Linked DNA regions of Homo sapiens. Changing the gene in region 3 together with the main gene of any one other region gives a genetic interaction. Each region holds a gene or a part of one and is shown on either strand. Other genes may lie near its edges.

Region 1 (3,525 bases), on a different chromosome or scaffold from region 3:
TAATGCGATCTGGGACACAGGGAGGCCAGGCTGGCATGTGACAGAACACAGTGACATGAGATGCTCATTAGAGGGACTCTTCCCAATGGAAGCACAGACTGCAATTTGTACCTGAATGACAAGGTAGCGCTGGGGGTCTCGGGCCATTTTGGAGAATTCGATGATCAACTCACGGAACTTTGGGCGACTATCTGCGTCTATCATCCAGCCTGGGGAAGGAATGAGAAAAAACAGTGCAATTAGAACACTGGAAGAAATGATAAAGATGGCATTGCTTAAAGAAGGCATTGGTGATGCGACACTTCCAGTCAAATAAGTGATGAAAGAACCAAGTCTTTGTGGTAGACTTTTCTGTCTTGGCCAGCTAGTACTGGTTACTGTTTAAAGACCATGCCAGCACTGTACATTTGAATCAGAATAACAATAATGCCCTCTAGTTTTTCTACGCCCACTCTTCCTGGGGTCAGCATCCTGTGTTACGCCTGAGGGGATGGAGCAGTGTGGGTCTGTACAATTGCTCTCCATGAACTATCCTGACTGCAGGGTGCCCTGCACCAAGGTCCTCACTCAACATCCACCCTTAGCATTCCTTCAGGTAGGAAACCAGATGCAACTTAGAAAAATAGGCTTTAAAGAATTTGGGGTTGGGACTGGGCCCCTACCCCCGGCGTCTCCAGTACAGCACATACCCAGTGGGCATGCATGCAAGTGAGAAGGCTGGTGGGCATGCATGCAAGTGAGAGGGCTGGCTGTGCTGGCAACTTCCACAGGAGGACACACTGTTAACTGTGCTGCTGCATGTGACTACCCAACAATCTAAATCCAGATTAAACAATTTGGAGGTATGGCTACTGCCTGGAAATCCTCATGCCTCTTGAGGGATCACATTTATTTTCCATCCACAGCATATCAAGCTATTTTAGGCCAGACTGCTATGTGACCTTAGACAAATCACGTGGCTTCTCTGGATCACAGCTTCCTTAGCCCAAACCAAGGAAGTTAAAAAAGATCAACTCTGTGGCCTAGAGTTCAGAAAGGCATTAATATTTACATTAACTTGGCTCTGTCATATTCCCTATACAACTTTCTTTTGCAAATGCTCATCCCATGCATGTAATGCTACCTCCAGAGCCCACTGCACTCGTGAATCTGGTAGAATAATAGCATCAATCAAATTACACACTCTTATTTAGATTGAAATGTTTAAATGCCACACTGCAGAGACTTCACATAAATCCACTGGTTTAAAAGGTTTAAGTCAAAGCAGAAATGTTGACTCTATTAGCCTTATGTTGTTACTCACTGCCATGCATTTAAAAACATTCAGTCTCTCTGGTAACAGGCTTCAAAATATAGGGCAACTCGGTATTTCATTGAGTAACTCAGCGAATAGAATATTTTGGTGTAATGGCTTGCGGAAGACTTTAGTTTTATTTATTTGCTTGCAAACATGGGCAAATGTCAGGTCATACTGCCCAATGAGTCAAGAAGTGTCTTTAAAAGAATGCTTGAAGGGGTATTTACAGATGTTTCTGGATTTGTGTGCCTGCCTTAAGTAATGTGATGACATTTCTCCAGGGATGCAAAGGCCTCAGCTGTTTGGCTAAGAGCAGCCACCAAGGCTCAGCTAGGCAGTGTGGACAGACCCACCAGTCACTCACACTTGACCATGATCATGTAGACATCGATGGTACATATGGGTGGCTGAGGGAGGCGTTCTCCTTTCTCCAGGATGGAGGAGATCTCGCTGGCAGGGATTCCGTCATATGGCTTGGATCCAAAGGTCATCAACTCCCAAACAGTCACCCCTGAGAGGATGAAGCAAGAAAAGAAGGCAGTGGGATCATGAATGAACAATCACAATCCCTTGCTTTAGTCATCATTACTGGTTACTGTTTCTTGATGTTTAGAAACCTACATTTCTGTAGTCTTGGGCAATTTGCTTCAATGCTGGAAGCCTCAGTCTACCTCTCTATAAAGTGGGGTAATAGCAGTATCTGTTTCACAGGATTGCTGTAAGGACCCAACAAGATAATACAACTGAAATGCTTAGTGCAATGCCCAGCAAGTAGTAAGTGACTGATAAGTGGTAAACTTTGGTAATTAACAATAAAGACAACAGTAACTCTACTAGCATAAGTATTATGCTCCAGACAGGATACACACTCAGTCACCTGCTCTGAGGGACCTGTATCTGCAGAATGAGGAAGATGCAGATTCTGAACAGGGCTGTAAACTGCACATTTTTAGATCATAAAAAAATTGGAAATGAAAAAGCTTAAGTTCCATTTGATAAAAATAAAAACCTCAGGAAGAAACTGAATCCCTGAACAGACCAATAATGAGCTCCAAAATTGAATCAGTAATAAATAGCCTACCAACCAAAACAAAGCCTAAGACTAGATGGATTCATAGCCAAATTCTACAAGATGTACAAAAAAAGCTGGTACCATTCCTACTGAAACTATTCCAAAAAAATTGAGAAGGAGGGACTCTTCCTTAACTCATTCTATGAGGCCAATGTCATCCTGATACCAAAGCTTGGCAGAGATACAACAAAAAAAGAAAACTTCAGGCCAATATCTCTGATGAACATAGACATAAAAATCCTCAACAAAATACTGGCAAATCGAATCCAGCAGCACATCAAAAAGCTTAAGCCACCACAATCAAGTCGGCTTCATCCCTGGGATGCAAGATTGGTTCAACATATGCAAATCAATAAATGTGATTCACCACACAAACAGAACTAAGGACAAAAGCCACATGATCATCTCAATAGATGCAGAAAAGGCTCTCAATAAAATTCAACATGTTTAAAATTCTCAATAAACTAGGTATTTAAAGAACAAACCTCAACATATTAGCCATCTATGGCAAACCCACAGCCAACATCATATTGAATGGGCAAAAGTTGAAAACATTCCCCTTGAAAATTGACACAAGACAAGGATTCCCTCTCTCAACACTCCTATTTAACATAGTATTGGAAGTCCTGGCCAGATAAATCAGGTGAGAGAAAGAAATAATGGACATCCAAACAGGAAGAGAGGAAAACAGCTATCTCTGTTTGCAGATGACATGATCCTATATCTAGAAAACCCCATAGTCTTGACCCAAAACCCCTTAAGCTGATAAACAACTTCAGTGAAGACTCAGTTGTACAAAATCAATGTACAAAAATAATTAGCATTCCAATATGCCAACAACAGTCAAGCTGAGAACCAAATCAGGAATGCAATTCAATTCACAATTGCCACAAAAAGAATAAAATACCTAGAAATACAGTAAACCAGGAAAGTGAAAGATCTCTACAATAAGAACCACAAAACACTGCTTAAAGAAATCAGAGATGACACAAACAAATGGAAAAACATTCCATGCTCATGGATAGAAAGAATCAATATCATTAAAATGACTATACTGCCCAAAGTATTTTATAGATTCAATGTTACTCCTATCACACTACCAATGAGATTCTTCACAGAACTAGAAAATACAATTTAAAAATTCACATGGAACCAA
Region 2 (3,500 bases), on a different chromosome or scaffold from region 3:
AGAAATGCCTATTTAAAACTCATCTTACAGAGTAGTACATTGTATCCAAATTCATTAAATGCCCACATTTTCTCAGGAAGCATGCTAAATCCACTGAGATACATAAACTGAGTCTTCAACTGAAGTTTTTTTTTCCACATAGGTGATGATGTAGTTTATTCACAGCTGAAGATTTCACCTACAATTCTAAGCTAAAAAAGGATTCTGAGAAGATGTCTTTCTTAAAAAAATTAGGCTATCTGGGCACAGTGGTGACTGCCTATAATCCCAGCTACTTGGGAGACTGAGACAGGAGTATTGTTTGAGCCCAGGAGTTCAAGACCAGCCTGGGCAACACAGCAACAGCTCATCTTTTTTTTTTTTTCTTGAGACAGGGTCTCACTGTCACCCAGGCTGGAGTGCAGTGGTGCAATTTCGGTTCACTGTAGCCTTGACTTCCCAGGCTCCAGTGATTCTCCCACCTTGGCCTCCCAAGTAGCTGGAACTACAGGCGTGCTACCACCATGTCTGGCTAATTTTTTTGTATTTTTGGTAGACATAGGATTTTGCAATGTTGTCCAGGCTAGTCTCGAACTCCTGGGTTGAAACAATCCTCCTGCCTTGGCCTCCCAAAGTGCTGGTATTACAGGTGTGGGCCACTGCACTCAGCCGAGACCCCATCTCTTAGGGGAAAAAAAAAATTAGGCCTGAAAAGTAACTTTACCATTTATTAAATTGTTATTATCTACCAGACATTATACTAAGTAACTTATATATATTAATTCTTCAATAATCACAATAATCCAATGAAGTAGGCATTATTACCTCCATTTTACAGCTAAAGAAAATTCAACTTGAAAATATTAATGTCTTCTCTAAATTAGTTAATTAGTGACAGAATGAGGATTAAAATCCAAGATTGCTGAACTGAAAAGCATTATTAACCATGTGTTATACTTCCTCCTCAATACTACAAAAAAGGAAAAAAATATATAATTCACTATTTTTTTTTTTTTTGAGACAGGCTCTCACTCTATCACCCAGACTGGAGTGCAGTGGCATGATCTCGGCTCACCACAACTTCTGCCTCCCAGGCTCAAGGGATTCTCCTGCCTCAGCCTCCTGAGTAGCTGGGATTACAGGCACATGCCACTATTGCCCGGCTAATTTTTGTATTTTTAGTATAGACAGGGTTTCACCATGTTGGCCAGGCTGGTCTTGAACGCCTGACCTCAAATGATCCACCTGCCTCAGCCTCCCAAAGTGTTGGGATTACAGGCGTGAGCCACTGCACCCGGTCTAACTGACTATTTTCTAAATAATCCACAGTTTCGTAATTTCTCTTTTCTGAAAGCAAATTTCTTTATGCATATTACTATAGTAACCTTGGAAAATATAGAAAACTAAAAAGAAAAAAAAAGCCACGCAATATTTCATTCACTTAACAACTGCTGCTTACATCTCAATGTATTTCCTTTTAACATTTTTTCTTGAATTCCTGCTTCTGTCTCTTCCTCAAAGATGAAGAGCTCATTAAATCAATGCTTCTCAATTATTCATTAGGATTAGTGAGTTGTGAAATCTACTTAATGGGCCGGGACCAGCATTAAAATAAACAAGCAGAAACCTAAATAAAAATAGAAAATACCAGGCCAGGCACAGTGGTTCATGCCTGTAATCCCAGCACTTTGGGAGGCTGAGGCGGGTGGATCACCTGAGGTCAGGAGTTCAAGACCAGCCTGGCTAATGTGGTGAAACCCCATCTCTACTAAAAATACAAAAATTATCTGGATGTGGTCACAGGCGCCTGTAATCCCAGCTACTTGGGAGGCTGAGGCAGGAGAATCGCTTGAACTGGGAGGTGGAGGTTGCAGTGAGCCAAGATTGTGCCACTGGACTCTAGCCTGGGCAACAGGAGTGAAATTCTCCGTCTCAAAAAAAAAAAAAAAAAAAAAAGAAAAAAAGAAAAAAAAAGAAAGAAAATACCAGAGTGGGTGAGGTACAGTGGCTCTCACGCCTGTAATCTCAGTGCTTTGGGAGGTCCAGGTGGGAGGATCACTTGCGCTCAGGAGTTTGAGACCAGCCTGGGCAATAGAGCGAGACCTCATCTCTACTAAAAATCCAAAAATATTAGCTGGGCTTAGTGGCCTACGCCTGCAGTCCCAGGTATTTGGTAGGGTGAGGCGGGAGGATCACCTGAACCCAGGAGGTCCAGGCTGCAGTGAGCCAAGATCACAACACTGCACTCCAGCATGGGCAACAGAGTGAGACCCTGTCTCAAAAAAAAAGAAAAGAAAAGAAAATATCAGAGTGCACCAGATGTAGTGAGGTAAAGTTTCATAATATTTTAGCTACACATACACATGCGCTTGTGTATATAATTTATATATACATATGCACACATTCATATGCTTTTTTTTTTTTTTTTTGAGGCAAAGTCTCACTCTGTCGCTCAGGGCGGAGTGCAGTGGTGCAATCTCGGCTCACTGCAACCTCTGCCTTCTGGGTTCAAGGAATTCTCCCACCTCAGCTTCCTGAGTAGCTGGGATTACAGGCATGCAGCAGTAACACGCCCAGCTAATTTTTGTATTTTCAGTAGAGATGGGGTTTTACCATGTTGGCCAGGCTGGTCTTGAACTCCTGACCTCAGGTGCCTTGGCCTCCTAAAGTGCTTCGATTACAGGATTGCAGGCTCAGGATTACAGGCGTAAGCCTCCGCACCCGGCCTTGTATGCTTTTATATCTCTACCAGTTACAATGTAAAGTTTTTCTGAGTTTACAGCCAGAGCTTGAAATCAAATGCACTAAATTAGAAACTCAAGAACAGAAACCTCATCTTTTTGATCACCACTGTACCCTGAGGGTAAGCAGTGCTTGGCACATAATAGAAACTCAGAAGACATAAGTATTTGCTGTTGAATCAGATAATATTGCCAGGAGAGTAGTTAACTGGAGGAAAATTGATTAAAACAGATAACTTGGCCGGATGCGGTGGCTCACGCCTGTAATCCCAGCACTTTGGGAGGCCGAGGCGGACGGATCACAAGGTCAGGAGATCGAGACCATCCTGGCTAACACGGTGAAACCCCGTCTCTACTAAAAATACAAAAAATTAGCCAGGCGAGGTGGCGGGTGCCTGTAGTCCCAGCTACGCTGGAGCCTGAGGCAGGAGAATGGCATGAACCCCGGGGGGGCGGAGCCTGCAGTGAGCCGAGATCATGCCACTGCACTCTAGCCTGGGCGACAGTGAGACTCCATCTAAAAAAAAAAAACAAAAAAAAAAATACAGATAACTCTTACAGGAGACGAGTATTTGAGTTTTACTTTAAAGAAAGGGAAAGACGCGGCCGGGCACGGTGGCTCACGCCTGTAATCCCAGCACTTTGGGAGGCCAAGGCAGACAGATCACGAGGTCAGGAGATCGAGACCATCCTGGCTAACACAGTGAAACCCTGTCTCTACTAAAGGTACAAAAAATTAGCCGGGCGTGGTGATGGGCCCCTGTAGTCCCAGCTACTCAG
Region 3 (3,525 bases):
TTTTATTAAAGTGGAATTTAACAAATACTTTTATTATTTTGAAGCATTTCATCAATTCTCGGTGGAAGCACTACATCATCGAATGGGAAATCAACAAATGAAAAATGAAAAAAAAGATTATCCATTCACAGTAAGCACCATTTTACTAGAAAGAGAGATAAACTTCAAAAAGACAGAACTAAAAGTCTTTAAATATAAGACTGTATTCTTCTATATACTACACATCAATTTGTAGTGGCACCAAAGTGTCGCCTGCTCTGCCTGAGGGAGCACTCCCCCTAGTGATTTTCCATAGGAAATAAAGTTAAACTTTTATTAAAGTAAAAATTCCTGGGTCAATTAGAACACAAATAAGGAGGAAATTCTTTATAAAATAAGTACCTTGATGTTAGGGTGACTTAGAAACAATTCATTAGTCTTTGAATTCTAAATAGCTGAAGACATGCAGCTAAAACAATAATTTTTATTTTAATTTTTTTTGTTTTTGAGACGGAGTCTTGCTCTGTCACCCAGGCTGGAGTGCAATGGTGCAATCTCGGCTCACTGCAACCCCCGCCTTCCAGTTTCAAGTGATTCTCTTGCCTCAGCCTCTCAAGTAGCTGGGATTACAGACACCCACCACCACACCCAGCTAATTTTTGTATTTTTAGTAGAGGTAGGGGTTTCACCATGTTGGCCAGGCTGATCTCGAACTTCCTGACCTCAGATGATCCCCCTGCCTCGGCTTCCCAAAATGCTGGGATTACAGGTGTGAGCCACCACTCCCGGCCTAAAATAATAGTTTTAAATGTACAAAAATATCCATCCTTACTGAGCTGATTTATATTTGTTTTAAATTCTTTTTAGATTCAACTTTTAAAAAATACATTAGGCCAGGCATGATAGCTCACGCCTGTAATCCCAGCCCTTTGGGAGGCCGAGGCGGGTGGATTGCTTGAGCTCAGGAGTTCAAGATTAGCCTAGGGAACATAGTAAAACCCCATCTCTACAAAAAATACAAAAATTAGCAGGGCATGGAGGCATGCACCTGTAGTCGTAGCTATTTGGGAAGCTGAGATGGGAGGATTGCTTGAGCCTAGGAGATTGAGGCTGGAGTGAACTGTAATCCTACAACTGTACTCCAGCCTGGGCAACAGAGCAAGATCTTGTCTCCAAAAATAAAAATAAAAAAACTGAGATCAAAATAAATTTAGAGCTAAATCATCAGAATTAAGTAGTGACTAATAAGATGCTAAAAGAAAATCTGAAATTGGAGAGTCTTTCATCTAACAGAGTTACTAAATGCCCATTATATGTTAGGCGCCGTTCTTTGTTCACACTAGTAACAAAAGACAAAAAATAACTATGCTATTTCACATTTAACAGTCCTTAGAATGTTGACTGATTAGATATTTTCCCAAGTATCTTTTAGGTTTGTTCTGTTCTTGGTGGTTATCTAAACAAAAAATACTCTGACAACATTTAGTAAATTCATTTGTTTCCTTCTTGAATACAAACATTTTAGAAAATTCCAACTTCTTTTGTAGTCACTGCTAAATTTTGTATGCTGAGATTGAGACACTTACTAGTTATCAGGTGCTGACCCTGGCCACCTCCCAGAATTGTCCATATGCCTGGGAAGCAGTGCCTGCCATTGTGCTGGAGTAGCCTCCTTGCAGCACACTTTGCTGTAATACTCTCCAAACCAATTTTCTCTAATGCTATGTGACCTATATTAAGGTAGGGCATTCCAATATATCCTCCAATTTTGGTGAATACAATTGAATGGTTCTCAACAATGAATAGTTTGGCACACTTTTATTTGGGGGAGGTGGGGTGGTCACAATGACTAGCATCAGTGGGTAAGGGCCAGAAAGGCTAAATGAATCCTGCAATGGGATGACAGGTTTTTATCCTAAAGAACTGTCTCACTCAAAAGGCCAATAGTGACTGTCCATGGAGGGACACTCAGCTGTTGTCACCTGGTACAGTAACAAAGACAGAAGCTTCACTTTACTCATGTAATTTTTTCTACTAGACAGGAAGATAATTTTTGCATTTTATTAAATATATTTATATGCCACAAAAATTATTTTAGTGACAACTACCAGGAAAGTACAAAATCACTTAATAACTGGTTTTCTACACCTTGATTTGTCAAGAAACTCATAAGCAAATGGAAAGTAGTAAGTACTGATTGCAGTTACTTACAGCAAACAGTTTTGAGAAGAAGAAGAAAACCTGTAACACTGAAAATTGCTTTATATCCCATTCATAGATCTCTTCAAAAGGTCTACTTTAAAAATAAATCACATAAAGAATTGTTCAGACTTGTTTGGTGATGCCTCAACTTCAGAACATTTGCAAGGAAATCACATGTAAAAGCAATCATCTCATACAATTAAATGCTATTAAAGAAAAAAAAAGTTTCCTTTAAAACAGTGGTTCCCAAAATTTAGCAGGCATCAGAATCTCCTGAGGGAAGCTTGTTAAAATACAGAATGCTGGCCTCCTCCCCAGAGTTTGCTACAAGTTTGCAGGCCATTCTGATGTTGGTGCGGGCACAACACTTTGAGAACCACTACTTTAAGATCTAGTCTCTAGAATTCAAACTAATAAGCAATGCCCATATGCCTTTGCTTTTTCTAATAATAAATAAATAAAAGATCATTTCAGGTAGCTGCATCAAACTTTAAGCCTTTAGACTTTTTTTTTTTTTTTTTTTGAGGCAGAGTTTTGCTCTTATTGCCTAGGCTGGAGTGCAATGGCGTCATCTCAGCTCACCACAACCTCCGCCTCCCGGGTTCAAGCAATTCTCCTGCCTCAGCCTCCCGAGTAGCTGGCATTACAGGCATGTGCCACCACGTCCGGCTAATTTTTTGTATTTTTAGTAGAGATGGGGTTTCTCCACGTTGGTCAGGCTGGTCTCGAACTCCTGACCTCAGGTGATCCGCCCACCTCGGCTTCCCAAAGTGCTGGGATTAAAGCCACCACACCCGGCCACCTTTAGACTCTTGAAATGTTACGCTGACTCACAATTATTCCCATGAGTTCAAAAGACAGAACTAAAGGACAGTCCTGAATAATCTATGACTACAGGAAAACATTTATTTACATGCCCTCTACAAAATGGATTTACAAAACATAGTAACTATTAGGGTACATGACCTTGCTCCTATCTTCCCCATTGTGCTTCTTCTCTATAGAAAATCCAATATGAAATGACAAAGAGTACTGTACTCAGAATAAGAACTTCATCTATCATAAATGTACACATAAATATCAGTGAATTGTCATACTCAAGACTCAGATTCAGGAACTTCTTCATCAGGGCAGCAGTAATATTCCACAAAACATATTTGTCCATCTTCATTTCTAATCATATACTGTAATGAAAGGAAGCCTCTGTTATCTGTCCGAATAGATACCTTACAAGATAGGACTAATGCCTTTGTAGAGGGTTTCAGTAAGGAAATCTTGTATCTGTAGAAGAAAAAATAAAACGCTGTTATATCAACACAGTGAACACTGCTCAGAACTCCCAAG
Region 4 (3,525 bases), on a different chromosome or scaffold from region 3:
ATTACCAACTTTCTTCATGTAACTTTAATCCAGCAAGATTAATAAACTAAAATATTTAATCAAGTTACTGCATCTCTGATGATTTTATTGTATTACCTGACTCCCACAGTCCAAATAGAAAAAAGCGCATAATTTGGCATGATTAATCATTCATAGGTTTTCTAAAAGTGATTGATTATAACTTGTCAGACACATAATCTGATTGACCAAAGCTTCTGCAATTAAGTTGGTAACTGCCCCCTTTTAATTAATAATGCAACAAATACATTTACACTTCACAGATTCTACTTAGAAACATTCTACTCCATTGGCAGTTCATTACCAACTTAATGAACAAATCCTTCTGAAATCAAAGTAAAAGTCCATAATAGTGAGCCAGACTACACTATGAAAATCATTATGTTCCAAATATAAATTACTATTAAAGATATTCTATTTTCTTATTATTACATTTTGCACATATGTATACAATTAAATGATGAACAAAATACATACTTAACTAGTAACCTGAAAAATTACTTACCTCTGCATCTACCTCAATTCCAAGCACATCCAAAAGAGCTTTACAAATATTTCTCACATAGACCTTCCTGACTTGTAAAGCAGATTCATACCCAGCTGGCACAAATTTAAGGAAATACTGCAGTAAATGGCACAAAGCTGCTTTTAGCAAATCAGACTTAAGCCGCATGAGCACACCGTCTTCAAACATGACACAGAGTTTTTCCAGCAGCATATTTAAATAGACAGGTTCAATATTTCTATAAGCTTCTGCTTCAAAGGGAAATAGTGTCTTTATCAGCTTTGATAATGGCTCTTCATAGAGTTTCAATTGGTCAGTATCCATTTCTACAAGGTGTTTTAATAATTCCAAAAATGAGCTGAAAAAAGTGCTAGCTGGTTGTGCTGGTAGTCCTCCAAGCTGAAAAAGTTCTGTTAAAAAGCTAATTGCTAGGGATTTAATTTTTGGACTACCATACTCTAGCAGAACACAACCTATCTGCCAAAGTAAGAGTTCTTGCCTTCTAAAAAACACAATTGCAATAATACGAGTAAGAACCATTAATAAAGTGACTTCAATAAATTCTAAATTTTGCATACTCATCAACTGCAAAGGAGCTGATTGTAAATATCCCATGTGTTCATCTAATTGACTTAAAAATCGGCTCATGACCACTGGCCATTCCACAGCATGACCCATCACATTTCTTCTATGGAGGTAAACCAAGTCTTCAAAAAGTTGTAATAATTCTTTTGTGAGTACCCCAAAAATAGCAGGACTCTTGCTTTTAAAAAGAAATAATAATGAACAGATGACTTCACAGATTTTCTTGTGTAACAAATGACAGGAGGGAGTTGCTGCAATCCGCAGAAGTCTCGTTATGATCCAATTACTGAATTCTTTGAAATAAACAAAAAAGATATTAAATAAACAAGTATATCCGAAGTGCTAATTCATTTGCTAAATCCTTGACGATTGACTTTTAAAGAATAAACTTCACTAACAAGAGTGTAAAACATTCTCTTCACAATGGAAACATAATAGTTTAGAACACAGGCATACCCAGTTTTATTGCACGTTGCAGATACTGCATTTGTCACAAATTGAAGGTTGTGGTAACTCTGCATCAAGCAAGTGTATCAGTGCCATTTTTCCAATAGCATGTGGTCACTTCATGTCTCTGTATCACATTTTGGTAATTCTCAAAATATTTCAAACATTTTCATTATTATCGTATCTGTTATGGTGATCTGTGATCAGTGACGTTTGATGTTACTATTGTAATTGTTTGGAGCTGTCATGAACCACACCGATATAAGGTGGCAAACTTAATGGATAAATGTATGTGTTCTGACCCACCGACCAGCAGTTCCCCATCTCTCTCCCTCTCCTTGTGTCTCCCTATTCCCTGAGACACAGTATTGAAATTAGGTTAATTAATAACCCTTACAATGGCCTCTATGTGTTCAAATGAAAGGAAGAGTCACACATCTCTCACTTCAAATCAAAAGCTAGAAATGATTAAGCCTACTGAGGAAGGCATGTTGAAAGCCAAGACAAGTTGAAAGCTAGGCCTCTTTCACCAAACAACCAACTTGTTAAAACAAAGAAAAAGTTTTTGGAGGAAATTAAAAGTACTACTCCACTGAACGCACCATTGATGAGAAAGTGAAACAGCCTTATTGCTGGTATGGAGAAAGTTTTTGTACTCTGAATAGAAGATCAAATCGTTAAAAGATGAGGAAATTTCCAGTAGGAAAAAAAGAAGATCAAACCAGCCACAACATTCCCTTAAGCCAAAGCCTAATCCAGAGAAAGGCCCTCAACATCAAGGCAAGACACTCCACCAGCACAAATATTACAACTTGTTGAAGGATGATATAATCGTTAGCATTTTTTAGTAATAAAGTATTTTTAATTAGGGTACATACATTGTTTTTTAGACATAATGCTATTCCACACTTAAGGTACAACGTAAACATAACTTTTATATGCACTGGGAAACCAAAAAATTCATGTGACTTACTTTATTGCAATATTCACTTTATTGTAGTGGTCTGGAACTGAACCCACAATATTTCTGAGGTATGCCTGTAACAACTTTGGAGTCAGACAGGCAAGGTCCTAGCTTTCCACTTACTAGTTGTATAAACTTTTCATTTCTCTGAACCTCTGTAATTTCATGTATAAGGAGAATAATGCTATCTATGTTATGGGTTACTGTGAGGACCAAATAAGAAAATGCACATGAAATACTCAGCACAGTTCCAAAGTAAAATAAATGTTCAATAAAGGGTAGCTATTGTCATTCTTTCAACTAAAATTTGAGTGGTGACTCTGTCTCAGGTACACAAGAATAAATCAGTCATAGTCCTGTCCTCATGAATCTCACAGTACAGTTTCTTGAGCTTTTTGACTGCAACAAAGAAATAACATTTTATATCATGACCCAGTACATATACATGCATTTTATTTAAATATTTAAAACAAAAGGTTCATTAAATAGTACTTACTCTTATTACATACAATGTACTATAATATTTTCTTTTTTTTTTTCTTGAGACAGGTTCTCACTCTGTTACCCAGGCTGGAGTGCAACGGCATGGTCTTAGCTCACTGCAATCTCTGCCTCCCAGGCTAAAGCAATTAGTGTGCCTCAGCCTTCCAAGTAGCTTGTACCACAGGCATGTGCCACCATGTTCAGCTAATGTTTTTCTGTTTTGTTTTGGTTTGGTTTGGTTTGGTTTTGGTAGAGACAGGATTTTGCCATGTTGCCTAGGCTGGTCTCGAACTCCCAAAGTGCTGGGATTACAGGCGTGAGACATCGTGCCCAGCCTATGATATTTTCTAGTTTATTTCATCTTGTTTTAAATGCTGATAATTGCCTAATTTCATAACCCACTAGTGGGTTATGACCTGTAGTTTAAAAACTACTGTAGGAAAGAATATAGACAAACCAATGATTAGAGCACAGTTTAATAGCCTCTATGATAGATGAAATGCAGAACACTTAGTACTAAGAG
Region 5 (3,525 bases), on a different chromosome or scaffold from region 3:
GAGGTCGGGAGTTTGAGATCAGCCTGACCAACACGGAGAAACCCCATCTCTACTAAACATACAAAATTACCTGGGCCTGGTGGTGCATGACTGTAATCCCAGCTACTCGGGAGGCTGAGGCAGGAGAATCACTTGAACCCGGGAGGTGGAGGTTACGGTGAGCTGAGATTGTGCCATTGCACTCCAGCCTGGGCAACAACAGCAAAACTCTGTCCCAAAAAAGACATTTATCTCTTGCTTATCTCTTTTCTTTGTACTAGATGCTATGTTAAATGTTTTTCTTTGGTTTTCAATTTTTTAAAGTATGAAAACCTACATATTAGACTATAATTTTGTGCTTATCTTTTAAAGCATATGGTATTTTCCAAACCATCTGTAATAAAAATTAATTATCTCACCAGTCAGAAAAAAAAGATGGATATTTATTTTCTAAATAAGAGGCTCTTTAGTAGAGATTTGAGCATTCAGTTGACATTTACTTAATTTAGCCTATTCTCTTATTAAATACTTGAAAGAACTCCTATAGATCACAAATTAAAAACCATTCTAAAGAGTAATGAAAAAGCAGGAGGTGGGAGCAAAGCACAGAGTCTTAGAGTCAACCCATTACCCAGGCATGGCTACAGAGCATGTAAAGCTGACCAAAGACTCTTCCTACCTATTGCTGCCACCTCACATTCTTTTTTTTTTTTTTTTTTTTTTTTTTTGAGATGGAGTCTTGCTCTGTTGCCTAGGCTGGAGGGCAGTGACACGATCTCGAGTCACTGCAACCTCCGCCTCCCAGGTTCAAGCGATTCTCCTACCTCAGCCTCCTGAGTAGCTGGGACTACTGGCACGTGCCACTGTGTCCAGCTAATTTTTGTATTTTTAGTACAGATTGGCCAGGCTGGTCTTCAACTCCTGACCTCAGGTGATCCGCCTCGGCCTCCCAAAGTGCTGGGATTACAGGCGTCAACCATCGCGCCCAGCCTGTCACCTCACATTCTTTACTTACCAATGTAGGCTGAGTATCCCTACTCTGAAAAACCAAAATCCAAAAATACTTCTAGGTCCTAAGCATTTCAGATAAAGAATAGTCAACCTGTAATGTGGGATATTAGTAGTTTATGTACATATTTCATAAGATGCTTCCATGGTGAATACACCAGTGCGACCGAGAAACTGGGAAAGCAGTCCCCTATTCACTGATAAATCTCATTCCTATTATCTTTTCCCTACCAGACCTTAAAAATATCGATAGCAAAGTTCTGAGACACATTCCGTTTCAAAGTAATCTATAACCTACTCATAAATAATACTGTTGATTAGAAATAAAAGGTTTAGGTTAAAAATTCAGTATTTTTAGAGTTAATTTTAACTAGGGTCCTCACTCTTAGAAGTGCAATTAGTCACTGAGCTATTTTCAGTGCAACTTGGTAAAAACTAAAGAAGAAAAAGTGTTAAATGAAATACGATCTAAAAAGAATGGATAAATATAAAGAGAAAACAAACGCAACAAAAATTATATATTAATAAAGATTCTGTTCCAACTTCAGGTCAGGCCATAAGAAACAGTCATCCCTGGTATACACACGGCATTGGTTCCAAGACCCCCCCAGCCTCTAGTCCTACAGTTGGCCCAGGAACATCCAGGTATATGAAAAGTCAGCCCTCCATATCTGCATTTGGTTGGGAAAAAAACGTGTATCACAAGTGGACCCATGGTCACTCAAACGCATGTTGTTCAAGGGTCAACTGTATTTGGAGGAAGAAAAAAAAATATGCATCAATGTAGACTCTTTCAAAAAATTTAGAGTCTAAATAAGGTTTCAGCAAGCTACTGCCCACAGGCCAAATCTTGCCCACTGTTTTTGTATTGCCCATTAGCTAGGAATAGTTAAATAGCTGTTTAAAAAAACAAAAACAAAAACCCAAGACTTTGTGACAAAGACCCATATGGCCCTTTATAGAAAAGTTTGCCAACTCCTGCTGTAAGTTAATAACTCTTCACATTATTTGAAGTATTCTCAACAAATATTATTTATTCTCTTTATATATTTTTTTAAATTTACCACTCTGAGAAAGTACTGGTTATGAAAACCCATCTGATTTTAAAACACAGAGATTCTGTAATGAAACTAGTTAATAATGGAGCAAAGACAAGGATGAAGGTGTTACGTTTTTAATTAGTATTTCCAGCCTTTCAAAAAAGTAAACTTTTAAATTAGGTACATAAGTTACCAAGGTTACTAATTTGTAGCCTTAGGAAACTACGATAAAATAAAGTAACTTAAACTAACTCACAATAAAATATTAAATGAAGGAAAGTTATTCCCCATAGTCCCCCCACTCCCAGCTAAAATATTATTTTTTCCATCTACATAGTAAAAAATTTTTCTAAATGAAATGTACTATACTGGCAAGACTGAATTGTAGACAGAATTCAAACATTTCTGGTGACATAATAAGCACAATATTTTTGGAAAGCAATTACAGTATTTATCTAAAGTCATTCAAATGTTCATAGCCTTTGACATAGTAATGTTACTATGGGAAATTATGCTAAGAAAATATGTGGTTTTTTTTTAAATGACAGTTATAAAGAGATTCTTAACATGGCATCCTAAAATGTCTTACAAAGAAAATTTACTTAAGCATTTAAAACTGACCCATAATCTTGCACCATTTACCTATCTTCAAAATATATCCTACATCCAACCACCTACCACCACCACCACCACCATCCCCCTAGTCCATGATAACTATTTTGTCTCAGGCAATCTGCAGCAATTGCTTCCTAGCAGGTATCCCTGCTGTTAATCTCACAATATAGTCTCCACACAGCAGCAAGTGATAGTTTATAAATGTAGGTTAGGGCTAGGCACCATGGGCTAGGCACCTATAATCCCAACACCTTGGGAGGCCGAGACAGGTGGATCACCTGAGGTCAAGAGTTCAAGACCAGCCTGGCCAACATGGTAAAATCCCATCAAAAATACAAAAAATACAAAAAAAAATTAGGTGTGGTAGTGTGTACCTGTAGTCCCAGCTATTTGGGGAGCTCAGGTGGGAGGACTGCTTGAGCCAGGAAGGAAGAAAATGAATGAATGAATGAATGAACGAAGGTAGGTTAGATCATGTCATTCACTTGCTCAAAGTCCTCCAATAGCACTCTTCGGTCTTAAAAATAAAAATGCAAAGCACTCTTCCTTCTCTGGTACCTCCTATGTTTCCTTCATAGCATGTATTATAATTTGTAATTATGTATTTACTTGTGAAATTGTTTAAGTCTATATCCTCTACTAGGCTTTAAACTCCGTGTTGGTAGGGCTCACGCCTGTTGTACTCACCACTACACACCCTCTACCTAACAGTCTTGAACGCTATAGGTAATTAGTACTGCCTCTTAAATAAGTGAATGAATCCATTTGATGTAAATATATGCAGATACTAAAAAATGAATGGAAATTTTATTAGAATTAAGCAGTTAACATAAATACAATTTAACAGATTTTTCAATTATATAATACAAATCCTTCTCAAATA

The links.
Region 1: changes in RAD1 (region 3) and EGFR together harm fitness more than expected from each alone (negative genetic interaction), as found in Homo sapiens cells (one large-scale study listed by BioGRID).
Region 2: changes in RAD1 (region 3) and RIT1 together harm fitness more than expected from each alone (negative genetic interaction), as found in Homo sapiens cells (one large-scale study listed by BioGRID).
Region 4: changes in RAD1 (region 3) and ATR are lethal when combined (synthetic lethality), as found in Homo sapiens cells (one large-scale study listed by BioGRID).
Region 5: changes in RAD1 (region 3) and KRAS are lethal when combined (synthetic lethality), as found in Homo sapiens cells (2 studies listed by BioGRID, with this or other methods).

Annotation. Positions count from the first base shown.
Region 1 is NC_000007.14:55,197,000-55,200,524, reverse strand, and holds part of EGFR (epidermal growth factor receptor isoform a precursor), read right to left. Parts: intron 1,809-3,525; coding exon 1,662-1,808; intron 210-1,661; coding exon 112-209; intron 1-111. UniProt on the Homo sapiens protein: Receptor tyrosine kinase binding ligands of the EGF family and activating several signaling cascades to convert extracellular cues into appropriate cellular responses.
Region 2 is NC_000001.11:155,904,850-155,908,349, forward strand, and holds part of RIT1 (GTP-binding protein Rit1), read right to left. Parts: intron 1-3,500.
Region 3 is NC_000005.10:34,905,487-34,909,011, forward strand, and holds part of RAD1 (cell cycle checkpoint protein RAD1), read right to left. Parts: intron 3,463-3,525; coding exon 3,279-3,462; 3' UTR 109-3,278; coding exon of another isoform or gene 45-108; 3' UTR 1-44. UniProt on the Homo sapiens protein: Component of the 9-1-1 cell-cycle checkpoint response complex that plays a major role in DNA repair. The 9-1-1 complex is recruited to DNA lesion upon damage by the RAD17-replication factor C (RFC) clamp loader complex.
Region 4 is NC_000003.12:142,561,709-142,565,233, forward strand, and holds part of ATR (serine/threonine-protein kinase ATR), read right to left. Parts: intron 1,402-3,525; coding exon 524-1,401; intron 1-523. UniProt on the Homo sapiens protein: Serine/threonine protein kinase which activates checkpoint signaling upon genotoxic stresses such as ionizing radiation (IR), ultraviolet light (UV), or DNA replication stalling, thereby acting as a DNA damage sensor.
Region 5 is NC_000012.12:25,230,413-25,233,937, forward strand, and holds part of KRAS (GTPase KRas), read right to left. Parts: intron 1-3,525. UniProt on the Homo sapiens protein: Ras proteins bind GDP/GTP and possess intrinsic GTPase activity. Plays an important role in the regulation of cell proliferation.